4 linked regions of the Homo sapiens genome follow. The protein of the gene in region 1 interacts with the protein of each later gene in a biochemical or structural test. Each region holds a gene or a part of one and is shown on either strand. Other genes may lie near its edges.

Region 1 (3,500 bases):
GCAGCAGCATCAGGGGAAAGCATCTTAAAAATCAGACAGGACATGGAAAGTTACTAACAAGGCTTGGTGGAGACCTGAGGGCACCCTAGTGCTATTTCCATGACTTGCCTAAAGAAGTTACTTTTTTTTGAATTAACAGAGGTTGGAAGGTTTGATGGTAATTGAAACACGACCTGATAGGACTCAATTTTATTAATTTAAAGACATAAAGCTTGCATTATATACGCCACGTCTGCACATTTGCACTTCTTGAACGTTTGCTATCACATGTGAGGGAAACTTAATTAAGACTAAGAGTTATATGAAGAAAGTTAACTCCTCACAGAATTTTGATGGATGTGATTAATGAGTTTAATAGCTACAGATTTATGATTTTTCATCAACCTGTTGGCTAAGTGAAATACGAATTGCGTCAGTCCTTGTTACTTTAGGGGGATTCCGGGAGAATGGAAGGAAGGCCAGGGGCAAAATGCCGCTGCCCTGCTGTGCATAAGTCATTTCAGAGCATGCTCTGAGTGTTTGTCCTTGCCGAAAAGTGGCTTTACAGGCAACTACTTTAAAACAACTTGCTGCTTCCGTTCTTGGTCAGCTCTGTGATCCAGGCTGCCCTCTGTGGACACAGCACAGTTCTCCCTGGCCCTCTGCCTGTGTGTGCATGCACCCATGCATGCCAGGCACCCTGACTCAGTGACCCTGGAAAGCAGGATTGAGAATGGCTCCATCTGTGGGCTTTTCTTCCCCCATGAAATACAGTGCAGGACTGCAATGCTCTCAGACAATGTGCTGAGCCTGAACCATTTCTTAATTATCTACGTTTATAAGTGATTATCTCATAAAGTTTTTGTTTTGCAAAACAGATCTTTATTTAAACACAAACACAGGTTAACAACTCTTGAAAAAGCATACATAAAAATAAGTAAATGAAACAACCATTTCTGTTGTCTTCAGGAAAATATGACTGATACATTTAGAACTTTAGAATAAGATTCCCTCTGTGGGAGTGGAGACCCAAAGCCATTATAGGCATCCCAACAATTTGGCGGATTTATTGGTTTAACAGCTGATACATAAGAGAATCACAGAGTAAGGGCCATGGGGAAGCCAGACGGATGAGAGTTTCTCTGAAATGAGAAACCTCAGAGAAGAGACAGGGACAGTCTCCAGGCTGTTCCAGCGTTTGGTAGCACACTGTGCTCTGGCGGGGTCTTTTCTTTGGAGCTACCTCAAGGAGAGCCTTCTTGTCCCCTCCTTTGACCCCACAGGATAGAGGACAACTGCTCCCTGGCCTGGGGATTCTGTCAGACCACCCCTGATAGCGCTTCTCTCACCTTACGTGGCCGCAGACACACTTGCATTTGCTTCCTTCCTGTTGTGACCCTGGGCAAGGTAGCTAGCCTGTCTGATCTCAGTTTCGTCACCTGTAAAATGGGATCATAATGGCTACCCTGTCTCGCACCCATCCTCAATAAATGGCAGATGCCATCAGACGCCCCCCCGCGGATGTAACCTTTTCTACCGTATTGTCTTTCAGGCTCTGCACTCACTCGTCTCAACATTTCCCACGGCCCAGCTTCAGCTGTGAAGCCCACAGCCATAGACTGCTCTGATGTGCGGCCTCCCACACCCAGGCAGGGTACATCTGGGTCTGGGCAGCCACAGGACAGGGAAGGAAGGAGGAGGGAGCTTGCAGGGGTGCTTGTTAAAGGTGTAGCAGGGCAGGTACCACACACAGGGGCAGGTGGAGCGTCCAGGGGTCGCCCGAGGTGGTGCTGGTCAGAGAGGGTTGGCTTCGTCCTGTTCTGAGCCGAGGCTGCTGGAGGAGGGCAGAGGCCTATGACTGCATCGTGCTCCTGGTTAGGGCAGGAACAGCACCCTGGAATACCCCACTCTCCTCTTTACTCCTGAATTACAAAAAATACATCTTGTTCTTTAGCATAAATTATAAACATAAAAAATTCTTATGGTAGAGAAAACGTTTAAAAGTCATCACAAAGTCAATATAAATTGTTCAGATCCTAACCAACCACAGCAAATTCCTAACAATTGGGATATGTCTCTCCACCGTGTGTATCTGTTTGGCCTTGTATCTACCTACCTGTCCTGCTCTTCTCAGTTAGCATTGTTTTACAAGCATTTTCCCATGTTACTAACATTTTTTGATAAGCAAAATTTTTGTTTCATTATATTCTATCTAAAATATGTATTACCATTTTATAACCAATATCCTAGTGTATAAAGTGATGCTGCTTGCGATGTTTCACTCATTATATTGCAGTACACCATCTATTTAATTTTTTGAATACTTTTTATTAGTATTGGTGCCTAGAAAGGAATTATTGAGCCAATGGGTATATATATTTTTTAAGTCTTTGCCAAATTTAAATATTTGCCAATTTAAAAAATAATTACCAGATTATTCTCTGGAAGGATTATACCAGTTCTCCCTTTTTCTAGCCACATATGAGACCAGTTCCACACTACACCCATAACAACTCTGAATATTTTACTCTTTGAATCTTTGCCATTCTGACAGATAAGAACAGAATCTCATTTTTATTTGTACTTCTTTAATTTTAGTATTTCATTACATTTTTTTGTTTGTTTGCTGTGAACCCATTTTGGCTAGTGGTCCACTGTGACCTCTGGATTTTTTTTCTTATTTATACTTTTATTCTCTGTTTGGTCTAGCTTACTTTCCACATATTTCCCCTACTGAGCTTGGCCAAGACATGTTTTATAAAATTTCACATCGATTCCCATCTGTCCACTCTCCCACTCTTCATTTTCTTTCCTGTCAGCACATTCTCCCAGCTTTGCTTGTGTTTGTTGTTGAGTGTGAATAATTTATGTATACCCACTGATATCGCAGAAGCTGTTTTTAGTGATATCTTATCCATTTCTTCTGTGTCCTCAACAGTGACTGGCAAAGAGTAGAGGTTCAATAAGCACTTGTTGAAAACATAAACTTAAATTTTAATTATTTGAAATCATAAAGAGGAAGTTAAGATATCAGAGTAATGTAATTATCATTGTAGACTTCAAATAGAATTCTTATGTTTTTAGAGACATTTCTCCTAGTAAAATAACGTTAATTAAAATTGACTTAAATTGATGTTTAAGAAAGTATAAAAAATGTAGCTGTAGTATCTTGAATTCATAATCCAAACTAACATCATCCTAATAACTGCTTGTTATGTGCCAAGTCCTGTGCTAAACTCTCATAATGTCTCATGTGATCCTCACAGCAGCCTGGGTACTGCTGCTTTCTTACAGATAAGGACAAAGGATTAGAGAGGCGAAGTATCTTATACAAGTCACACAAATCTGTCTCCCTTCTCTTTATCATCTGATCTCTTTTTTCCTGCTATTCACCCTAGCTGTACATAGTGAATTACTGTGCAGAGAAACATGATGTATTAAGTGTTATGGAGACACATGAAATAATTGGATAATGAAAATTATTATCGCTGGTTACTTTATGTTATCTACTCTTCTGGGAA
Region 2 (3,500 bases), on another chromosome or scaffold:
TTTTTGCTTTCAGTACATCCCACGCCATCCACCTCCACTCATGCCGCCTTGCCCATAGTAACCTCCACTGCCTCCACCACCACGGCCTTAAGAAAAAGATATTAAGAATCACTCAGCAGGAGATATCTGCATAAAATAATAAAAGTAATACCTGCACTTTAAAGTTTGCACTACATATGCGGACTAACACAAACTGAACTAGAGATACTTACCATAACCACCCAAACCATCAGGAGTACCATATCCTCCACTGTAATTGTTCCCCATTCCCATTCTTCCAACTGATCCATAGCCTCCCTGATTATCTTTAAAAAGAAAAAAGAAAAAAAATTGAGACTCATCGATAAGCAGCTAACCCTGCATATTTTAAAAACTTTACATACCCATTCCATCTCTTCCGTAGCCTCCCATTCCAGAACCTCCCATGCCAGAGCCGCCTCCAGGAGTAGAATTCAAGAAGAGTTCAATATATCGATGTTCTTTAAGAAAAAAAGAAAGAGTAACAGGGGAGAAAGGAATGATGGATAAAATTCATCAATACAAGCTTTGTAAAAAAGATCAATTAAGTAATATTAAACAAAGTATGCTTATTAATTACTAGTACAGCGATATATAAAGCCCACAGAAAGCCATTATAGAGGTCAAATGGTTTTAAATCCCAACAACTGCCAAGCGTTACCTACAGATCTTAGAGCCTCTTATTTTATAAATTCACGTTTAGGAAATAAGATTGTGTGCCAAAGACACCACTTACGCATGTTATTTTTATCTTTAGACATGGCAGCTACTGCATCTTCATGTGTCACAAACTCTACATCTGCTTCTCCTGTGGCTCTGCCATCAGCTCCAATATCAATATGAACTCGTATTGGATTTAGTGGTGAGAAGAACTAAATAAAAGGAAACACTTATTTACTTTTCTATTGAGAATATTAAAGTAAATTACCACATACCTTGATTTTTCCTCATCAATTAAAACAAACCCTTCCACTGCCCTGTCAGACTAATAACTTAGTCAACTACAGAGGTTCTGTGAATATCAGAGTATACACTTAGGGATAATGTAAAGAATTTACTGCTTTTAAAATAAGCAGATAGGCAGGGCGCAGTGGCTCACGCCTGTAATCCCAGCTACTCAGAAGGCTGAGACAGAGAATCGCTTGAACGCAGGAGGTGGGAGCTGCAGTAAGCAGAGATCACGCCACTGCACTCCAGCCTCAGAGAGACAGAGTGGGAGACTGTCAAAAAAAAAAAGCACACAAACACACAGAGAGAAATACGGGATATCATGATTTGGAACTATGCGGTTTGAATAAAGCCACCTATTTAAGACTATATGAAATTGTTCCCCAAAAGATATCATTTGGTTCTAATCACAAGTTAGCCAGGTTTTAAACTATCATTAAAAGCAGTTGGAACTCAGGCCAGCTGATTCCCAGTAAGATCTAGAGCACACCATTGCTTTTAAAGCCAGAGTCAGTACTTTTGGCCTGAATGGCCATTGGGTCTCTAATGTAACCACTCAACAGGTAGAGGAATGGTGTGACCGGATTTAGCCCATGGACTGAAGTTTGCTGACCTCCTAACAAATCTGAAACCAACCAGTTTCACATCAGTGACAACAGCAGCATCTATTCCTGTTATTTCCAACTCCTCAGTTTCTAATCACCATCTAGCCTAGAAAGCCAAACCAAATCACTAATATTTATATATTCACTCTTTCAAACCCTAATACAGGTCAGGCGCAGTGGCTCACGCCTGTAATCCCAGCACTTTGGGAGGCCAGGGCAGGCGGATCATGAGGTCAGGACCAGCCCGATCAACATGGTGAAACCCCATCTCTACTAAAAATACAAAAAGTTAGCCAGGAGTGGTGGGGTGTGCCCCTGTAATCCCAGCTATTCAGGAGGCTGAGGCAGAAGAATAACTTGAACCCGGGAGGTGGAGGTTGCAGTGAGCCGAGATCGCGCCACTGCACTCTAGCCTGGGCGACAGAGCAAGACTCTGTCTCAAAAAAGAAAACAAAACAAAAAACGGTACAACAAAAGACACCAGCACAAAATGGTATAGTCATCACCATTCTATGCTGATCAGTCTTTCATTATACTCTTAACTGGACTTCACGAATGTAGCTTTTTACTTGTTTGAATCCTATGTAGGTTGACACACAATGGATACAAAAATATCCATCAGTGATTAGAATTAAAGGTAGATCTAATTAGCCAGGCGTGGTGGCGGGCACCTATAGTTCCAGCTACTCGGGAGGCTGAGGCAGGACAATGGCGTGAACCTGGGAGGCAGAGCTTGCAGTGAGCCGAGATCACACCACTGCACTCAGCCTGGGGGACAGAGCAAGACTCCATCTCAAAAAAAGAATTAAAGGTAGATCTATTTTTATATTCAAGGGATTTTGGTATTAAGCTATAAACATGAGAACATTAAGAATGCTTAAAGATTTAGACACCAGGATAAGTATAAAACCACTAATAGTTATTAAAAATTACTCACATTAGCAATGTCATTTTCAGTTGCACGAAAAGGCAACCCTCTCATATGTACGAAATGACCACCATGAAAACCTGAACTTGCATCACCAGCTCCACCATAGCCATGTCCTCCCATACCTGGAAAACACAATTTGCCAAGATTATAAACTATTACAGATACAAGTAGGGAAGTATACATACATACTATACAAGGTATAAAGCTCTATATAGGAATGCACTGAAATTTGTCTGAATTAACTTTATACAAGTTTCCTATATTACCACTAAGAGCTTGCAAAGCAAATACTAAAATTTACCTATGAATAAAAATGTCTTTAATATTTATTTTACCTCTTCCATCTCTCATTCTGTCATCAAAGCCATCATTCCCATAGCCGTAATTATTATAGCCACCATAGTCATCAAAACCTCCATAACCTGTGTAATTTAAGGAGAAACACATGACTACACACTTTCCAGAGATAAATTTTATAATTTAGTTTACAAAAACATTTTGTGGTAACAGTCTGTGTAACTTGATTGCAAGTTTGCAATTCCCAACTTAAAACCTATGAAAAAAGCAGTCAACGTGATGGAAATTTAAAATCTCAGAAAGTTAATTAAGTTCAGACATGTAAATTAAATTTCATCCTTAGGCAAAAAAAGGTCAAAATATGCCAACATCTTAATTTTAATTTCTGTGTAAGTTTTCTAGGTGCCAATATGTGCATCAGTCAAGTCCCACAGCTAGCCATGGGAATCCGTATTTTCATGAACAGGTTTTAAAACCTAATAGGTACTGAAATTACTGCCATTTCTGTATTTCTTGACAAAGTGTCAGGAACATTAAGAAAATGACAACAGAACCTTTGTTCATTAGATACACATACCACCATCATATCCATCACCTCCTCGTCGCATTCTGTCATACATACTTCCACGCCCAGCTCCATAATAACCCCCTCTTCCTCCTATTGGTCTATCATATGGTCCCGGTCGCTGTCCCAGCAATCT
Region 3 (3,500 bases), on another chromosome or scaffold:
AGTTAGTAGCTTTGTGACCTTGAGCTAGTCACTTAACCTATCTGGTCTTCATTTATTTTATCTGTAAAATGGGAGTGGGTAATCTCTATTTTACCTCACTGGGTGGTTGTGAGACCCAACAGATGTAATGACTGAAAAAAAACAACATGCTAAATAAATTAATTTTAGAAAATTACATGAGCTGTTTTGAGGTCATTTTTAAAAGATACAGCTTCTCATTAGTCGTGGTGGTCCATGGGGCAGGGGAGAATTAATGTAAACTAGGTTGAAGGTACAGAGTTATAGAACTTCATAATTTGAAATTGCTGCTTAATTGGTAGTAGAATTTGGGTCTCATTTTTGTCTTTTTAAAGTTACCTTCTTTTTTTGGTATCAGCATGCCAGATACTTGTTTGCCATACATTCTACTGAAAAAACTTGTTAATATGTTTAAAGAAACTTCAAATTCATTTACGTTTTTTATTGACAAAGTACCTGTTCTGGTTTGTGACTCTAATGAAATTGACTTAATGTAAGAGATTACAATTAGGGAATAATGCTTCTGAATCTTGGTCACTGTTTTCTTTACAGAACCTAGGGAACTTTCCCCCCTTTTAAGTGGATGGGTAGGGATCTTTTTGAGCAAATGTGATACCAGTTGCTCCTTTATTTTTTTGTTTGCTATTTGATGGACTCAAGTCAAAACAGCAACCTACTTGGTTTTTTAATCTTCACTGAAATCATTCCTTGCAATTGCCTGTTTGACATGGACTTTTCCCTCATTTAAATCAAGCAAGCACCCACTATGTACAGAAAAACATAGAAGATAAAGGATGTGAAGAACAACTTACAACTCATGTCTTCAGATCACTTCCTCGAACAAGTTTCTACCTGTGATCTTTGTATTTCTGATTAACTGTACTTGCTTCGTTTCTGCATTACAGTATTGCATTTGTTGACATGTGTTGCTTTTGTTTCCCTGATTGGACTGTAGGCTTCCTGAGGGCAAGGATGATTTCATGTCAATGTGGTATGTGTGAAGGTATACTAATAAACCTGATTGGTCTGGGTGAGGTGGCACTGGAGGTGAGGACGTGGGAGGATCGCTTGAGGCTAGGAGTTGTAGCCCAGGCAACATAGTGAGACTGTCTCCACAAAAAAGAAAAAAAAAGTTAGCTGGGCATGGTGGCATGCATCAGTAGTTCTAGGCAACTTTGGAGGCTGAAGCGGAAGTATTGCTTGAACCCAGAGATTTGAAGTTAATAGTTATGATCATGCCACTGGACTCCAACCTGCTTGGAAGGGTTCTTTGACCCCAGCAGATTCTTCAGAATGCTTTCTCTTGGTTGGTTCAGTGATCAGGGCCTCTTCACATCTCCCCTGACTAACGTGCCATTAGAGTGCCTGGATGGATATCAACTGTCACTGCCATGTTTTAGTGTTAAGCCAGTGGATTATTCTGTGCCACTTTTTTCATAGGCCAAGCTTTAGTTAATAAGGCCAAGCCTGAGGAGAGTCCAGGCCAGATAGGGTGGAAGAGTAAAAATCTGGTGGATGTTACAGAATAAATATAATTTTTAGATTGTTGTATATAATCTTAGTGCTTGGTAATTTTTTTTTTTTTTTTTTTTTTTTTTTTTTTTTTTTTTTGAGACAGAGTCTCGCTCTGTTGCCCAGGGTGGAGTGCAATGGCGCGATCTTGGCTCACTGCAGGCTCCGCCTCCAGGGTTCATGCCATTCTCTTGCCTCAGCCTCCCGAGTAGCTGGGACTACAGGTGCCAGCCACCACGCCCAGCTAATTTTTTTGTATTTTTAGTAGAGATGGGGTTTCACCTTGTTAGCCAGGATGGTCTTGATTTCCTGACCTCGTGATCCACCCGCCTTGGACTCCCAAAGTGCTGGGATTACAGGCGTGAGCCACCGCGCCCGGCCAGTGCTTGGTAATTCTTAACGTGTAGTGTAATGTAAGCTTTACTTGTGTATTTTCTTTTGGTACTTGTGTATCATTTCAGCAGCTGTGTTACAGACTTGAAGACATAACCTCAAAGCAGTTGTTCTCTACCTCTCTGCTGGGTTTCTCTGTGCATAATGGATGCTTGCTGTTATTTGTAATAAATAGATAAGTATACCGATGCTAGACCTGTCCCTTGATTTTTCTTTTTTTTTTTTTAAGTAAAATTTAACTCTGCTAATGTCTTGGGTTTTTTAAAAATGTAGTTCTTTAATATCCTAACTTACTGATAGTTTTAGGTTATTGGCAAAAAGAGGTTTCCTAGACTGAAATAAGTCTGTTCAGTCATTTTTCTCTGAGGCCTTTTAGATTTTGGTTGTTTATTGTGATTTCAGTGATTTCATTAAACTGAATTGGATAGAAGAAAAAGGAACTTACCCATTATTCAGGCTTACCTGCTTTGTCTTGAGAGTGCAGAAGCTATTGGCAGTAGTCAGTTTCATGGTTATGCTTGTTCGTTTGTTGAGACAGAGTCTCACTTTTGTCACCCAGGCTGGAGTGCAGTGGCGCGATCTCGGCTCACTGCAACCTCCACCTTCCAGGTTCAAGTGATTCTCCTGCCTCAGCCTCCCAAATACTGGGATCACAGACGGGCACCTCCACACTTGGCTATCATGGTTATGCTTGATTTAAAAAGTCATTCAAATGGTCTAGAGTGAAAAATACCTGCTACTGTGTGTTTTCCTTAATAGCACTGTTCAAGTGATTATCTGATTTGAAGGCAAGACTTAGGTTCCAATCCTGGCTATGCATTTCCCATCTTTGTAACCTTGGGCAAATAATTTAACTTAGTACTTTGTGAGCTTCAAGTGCCTAATCTGAAAAATTTGATTATTACCACCTAATGTAGAGTCAGTTGTCATTTATATGCTAGACATTCTGTATTTAGATTAGGCTCCACAGATGAATTGGAACACAAGGCCCTTTCTCCACTTGTTTACAGTACTGTGGACCATTGCCTCATTTGTTAAAACTCTTTTAACTCGAACATACCTCTGTTATATGCATAGGTATCCTACTTGAAACATTTGACCCAGTGGCTCATGCCTGTAATTCCAGAACTTTGGGAGGCTGAGGCAGGAGGATCACTTGAGCCCAGGAGTTTGAGACTAGCCTGAGCAACTTAGTAGAGACCTTGTTGCTACTAAAAGTAAAAAATTAGCTGGGCATGGTGGCACATGCCTGTAGTCTTCAGCTACCTGGGAGGCTGAGGTGAGAGGATTGCTTGAGCCTGGGAGATGGAAGCTGTGCTGAGCTGTAATTGTGCCACTGCACTCCAGCCTGGGTGACCGTGAGACCCTGTCTCAAAAAATTTTTTTTTTTTTTTAGTATACAATAGTATTCCTTAGTTGATTATGAATTCTTTAAAGTCTTTAGCCCTCACCCTTTTTTTAACTTTTATAAGGACACTAATCCCAAGTAGTGTCCCTTTTTATCTCTGCATCTAGCACAGTAGCTGGCCCATGATAGGGATTAAGCGTTTGTTGACAGAATAAGTCTTGTGAAAATA
Region 4 (3,500 bases), on another chromosome or scaffold:
GAACTTGGTTGCAGGGTGGTGGCAAAGTGATCGAGGCTGGCAGAGACCTGGTGAGCTAAATGCCTGGTTACTTTTATAGCTCGTAGCCTCAGGTGAACTGATGAGTTCCAAGAAGAAGGATTTGCACCCTCGGGATATTGATGCATTTTGGCTGCAGCGGCAGCTCAGTCGTTTCTATGATGATGCCATCGTGTCGCAGAAGAAGGCAGATGAAGTATTGGAGATTTTGAAGGTATGGCCAAGATGACAATAGTTGTATATTTAGTGTATCTTAGCACATGGGGACAGCGTATGAAGTGGCAGATGGCTTTGGCCTTAATGGTGGTGTTACCTGCTCTCTGCAGACGGCCAGTGATGATCGGGAATGTGAAAATCAGCTGGTTCTGCTGCTTGGTTTCAACACCTTTGATTTCATTAAAGTGTTGCGGCAGCACAGGATGATGAGTGAGTATATGGTGGGGTCTTCCTGCAGAGTGAGTACATATGTGTGCATGTGTGACATAGAGATTCTGTTGTTTTCACAGCCTAAGTGCTTGTTTCTTTTATTTTTCTTCTTTCTACCCTGAGGATGGTTTTTTGCCTTATTTCCTCCTCCTCACTTCCTTTGTTCCTTTTGTTGTGGGTAGTTTTATACTGTACCTTGCTGGCCAGTGCACAAAGTGAAGCTGAAAAGGAAAGGATTATGGGAAAGATGGAAGCTGACCCAGAGCTATCCAAGTTCCTCTACCAGCTTCATGAAACCGAGAAGGAGGATCTGATCCGAGTAAGGACTGGGTTGGTTTATCTGTCTGATTTCTGAGCTAACGGTGGCTAGAAGATTGCAGCATGAAGCTAAATTCATGTTAAAAGTGGAAGTTGAAAAAGTAATTTCCTAAATTCTTTGGGGTTTATCAGTGCATACAGGTTAGAATCAACACATCCACATTGGTTTGGTCATGAGACCAGTGACCTGCTGCTATCTTTCACCAGCACTGTGGGGACCTTTATTGTTTATTTACACAGTAAATCCATGGTGTTTACTAAAATAGAGTAACAGAACACATGTACTTGCTTAATGGAACCCACCCTTCGACCCCTCAGGGGTAGCCCTTGGTACTTAATTATAGAACGTGTATTTGTGGCATCCTTGTACTGCGCATTGCCCCTTTAAAAGTGTTTGTTTGCTTTGATCATTCTGGTGGTCCCCATGTAAAGCACTGTCTTTCTGTTTCACGACTTACTAGTCAGCACCTGTGACTCAAGTATTAGCTAAGCAGGGGCAGAAAAGGACAAGAACCTATGATACTGATGAATTGTTTTTGTGATTTTTATCTTTGTCCACTACAGGAGGAAAGGTCCCGGAGAGAGCGAGTGCGTCAGTCTCGAATGGACACAGATCTGGAAACCATGGATCTCGACCAGGGTGGAGAGGTAGGATCCAGGGCGATTTATTTCCCAGGCCTTGATGGATGGAAAACTCACTTGCTCGGCTTGCTTACTTCCTTTGTGTTTTTGTCTTTCACATTCCCAGGCACTGGCTCCACGGCAGGTTCTGGACTTGGAGGACCTGGTTTTTACCCAAGGGAGCCACTTTATGGCCAATAAACGCTGTCAGCTTCCTGATGGATCCTTCCGTCGCCAGCGTAAGGGCTATGAAGAGGTGCATGTGCCTGCTCTGAAGCCCAAGCCCTTTGGCTCAGAAGAAGTAAGTGAATTGCTTTCTTCAGTTCTCTGCTCAGTTCACCTCCTGGTTTGGATTTCAACCATTGACCAAAATGTAGCCTTGTTTCATATATAGTTTATTTCAGGGCTGAAAGCTGCAACAGAATTTTCCCATTCTGATTTTGAGCCCAGGGGACAATATTGATCTCTGGACTGACCTTTAATGGAAAGTTATGCAAAGAGATTGCCAGGGAACAAAATCCTGGCAATCCCACAATAACGTTTTGCTCAAGGATGCTGCCAACATGATATTGATGGCACTTCTTTTCTTCTAGCAACTGCTTCCAGTGGAAAAGCTGCCAAAGTATGCCCAGGCTGGGTTTGAGGGCTTCAAAACACTGAATCGGATCCAGAGTAAGCTCTACCGTGCTGCCCTTGAGACGGATGAGAATCTGCTGCTGTGTGCTCCTACTGTAAGCGCCACCCTGCCTGCTGTTTTCTTGTAGAATATGGTGTGGAGTTTCCGTTGCAAGATTGTTTTTTATTTCCACCCCCACCCCCTAATTCTTTGTCCTTTGATGGAAGAGAGGTTAAATAGTAGGATAAAGTGCCCAGGACAAGCTCTATTCTCTATTTGGGAAATAAGCCCATGGAAGTTAGGGCAGTGAGAATAACCAGGTGAATAGGCGTTCTCATCCCTGACCTCTCCCGTAGGGTGCTGGGAAGACCAACGTGGCCCTGATGTGCATGCTCCGAGAGATTGGGAAACACATAAACATGGACGGCACCATCAATGTGGATGACTTCAAGATTATCTACATTGCCCCCATGCGCTCCTTGGTGCAGGAGATGGTGGGCAGCTTTGGAAAGGTGAGGGAGTAGAACTTTCCTGCAGAGGATACTGGGTGCACCTATGAAAGTGTTGTGGACAGGCCTGGACCTCACCGCTTCTTGTATTAGGGCATCTCTGGCATGCCTCCTGGGATTGTTGTTATTTTTTATTTTTCTCTCCCCATTTCCAAGATGGAACTTAACCCAGGTACAGAGTTTCTGAAGTAAGAATGTCCTGAGCCATCTTTTACAAGGGTTAGCATCTTTCTTTCATCCTCTCCATGGCAATTTTCTGCAGTTCGTATCATTTGTGTTATTGAAGTGTTTATGAAACATCAAATGGATGTGGATGATAATAGACCTAGTGGTGTATTGTAGGTCTTCTTATCTACAAGTTGCCATTTCTTCCTCTTGTGTACAGAGTTCCCAGAGGTCTTTTTTTTTGAGACAGGGTCTCGCTGTCGCCCAAGCTGGAGTGCAATGGCACAATCATGGCTCACTGCAGCCTTAACTTCCCAGGTTCAAGTGATCCTCCCACTTCAGCCTCCCTGGTAGCTGTGATTATAGACATGTACTACTAGATTAGCTAATTTTTATATTTTTTGTAGAGACAGGGTTTCACCATGGTCTAGAACTCCTGGGCTCAAGCATTCTGCCTGCGTTGGCCTCTGAAAGTGCTAGAATTACAGGCATGAGCCACCATGCCTGGCCCCCAGAGATCTTTTGTCTGCTTTATTTGCCTGAGTTAAATTTGGATTTGTTTGAGGAAGATATGTTCATAAGATCTGATTCGCCTTGTATTCACCTGATGGGTTGATACCTGCTCCCAATGCCCTACACTCCAATTGCCCAAACAGAAAGCATGGTGTCCAGGCCCCTTCAAGCATTCCTGCCTGATGTAGTTTTCCTCCCACAGCGCCTGGCCACTTATGGCATCACTGTTGCTGAACTGACTGGGGACCACCAGCTGTGCAAAGAAGAGATCAGTGCCACTCAGATCATCGTCTGCACCCCCGAGAAGTGGGACA

The links.
Region 2: the proteins of ERG (region 1) and HNRNPH3 form a complex in vitro, tested with the Homo sapiens proteins (one large-scale study listed by BioGRID).
Region 3: the proteins of ERG (region 1) and TRIP12 form a complex in vitro, tested with the Homo sapiens proteins (one large-scale study listed by BioGRID).
Region 4: the proteins of ERG (region 1) and SNRNP200 form a complex in vitro, tested with the Homo sapiens proteins (one large-scale study listed by BioGRID).

The regions. Positions count from the first base shown.
Region 1 is NC_000021.9:38,491,978-38,495,477, reverse strand, and holds part of ERG (transcriptional regulator ERG), read left to right. Parts: intron 1-3,500. UniProt on the Homo sapiens protein: Transcriptional regulator. May participate in transcriptional regulation through the recruitment of SETDB1 histone methyltransferase and subsequent modification of local chromatin structure.
Region 2 is NC_000010.11:68,338,564-68,342,063, reverse strand, and holds part of HNRNPH3 (heterogeneous nuclear ribonucleoprotein H3), read right to left. Parts: coding exon 3,377-3,500; intron 2,925-3,376; coding exon 2,838-2,924; intron 2,625-2,837; coding exon 2,509-2,624; intron 953-2,508; exon of another isoform or gene 891-952; coding exon 755-890; intron 480-754; coding exon 384-479; intron 306-383; coding exon 213-305; intron 87-212; coding exon 10-86; 3' UTR 1-9.
Region 3 is NC_000002.12:229,915,510-229,919,009, reverse strand, and holds part of TRIP12 (E3 ubiquitin-protein ligase TRIP12), read left to right. Parts: intron 1-3,500. UniProt on the Homo sapiens protein: E3 ubiquitin-protein ligase involved in ubiquitin fusion degradation (UFD) pathway and regulation of DNA repair.
Region 4 is NC_000002.12:96,295,547-96,299,046, reverse strand, and holds part of SNRNP200 (U5 small nuclear ribonucleoprotein 200 kDa helicase), read left to right. Parts: intron 1-79; coding exon 80-232; intron 233-344; coding exon 345-444; intron 445-626; coding exon 627-763; intron 764-1,326; coding exon 1,327-1,410; intron 1,411-1,510; coding exon 1,511-1,684; intron 1,685-1,976; coding exon 1,977-2,114; intron 2,115-2,355; coding exon 2,356-2,511; intron 2,512-3,388; coding exon 3,389-3,500. UniProt on the Homo sapiens protein: Catalyzes the ATP-dependent unwinding of U4/U6 RNA duplices, an essential step in the assembly of a catalytically active spliceosome. Plays a role in pre-mRNA splicing as a core component of precatalytic, catalytic and postcatalytic spliceosomal complexes.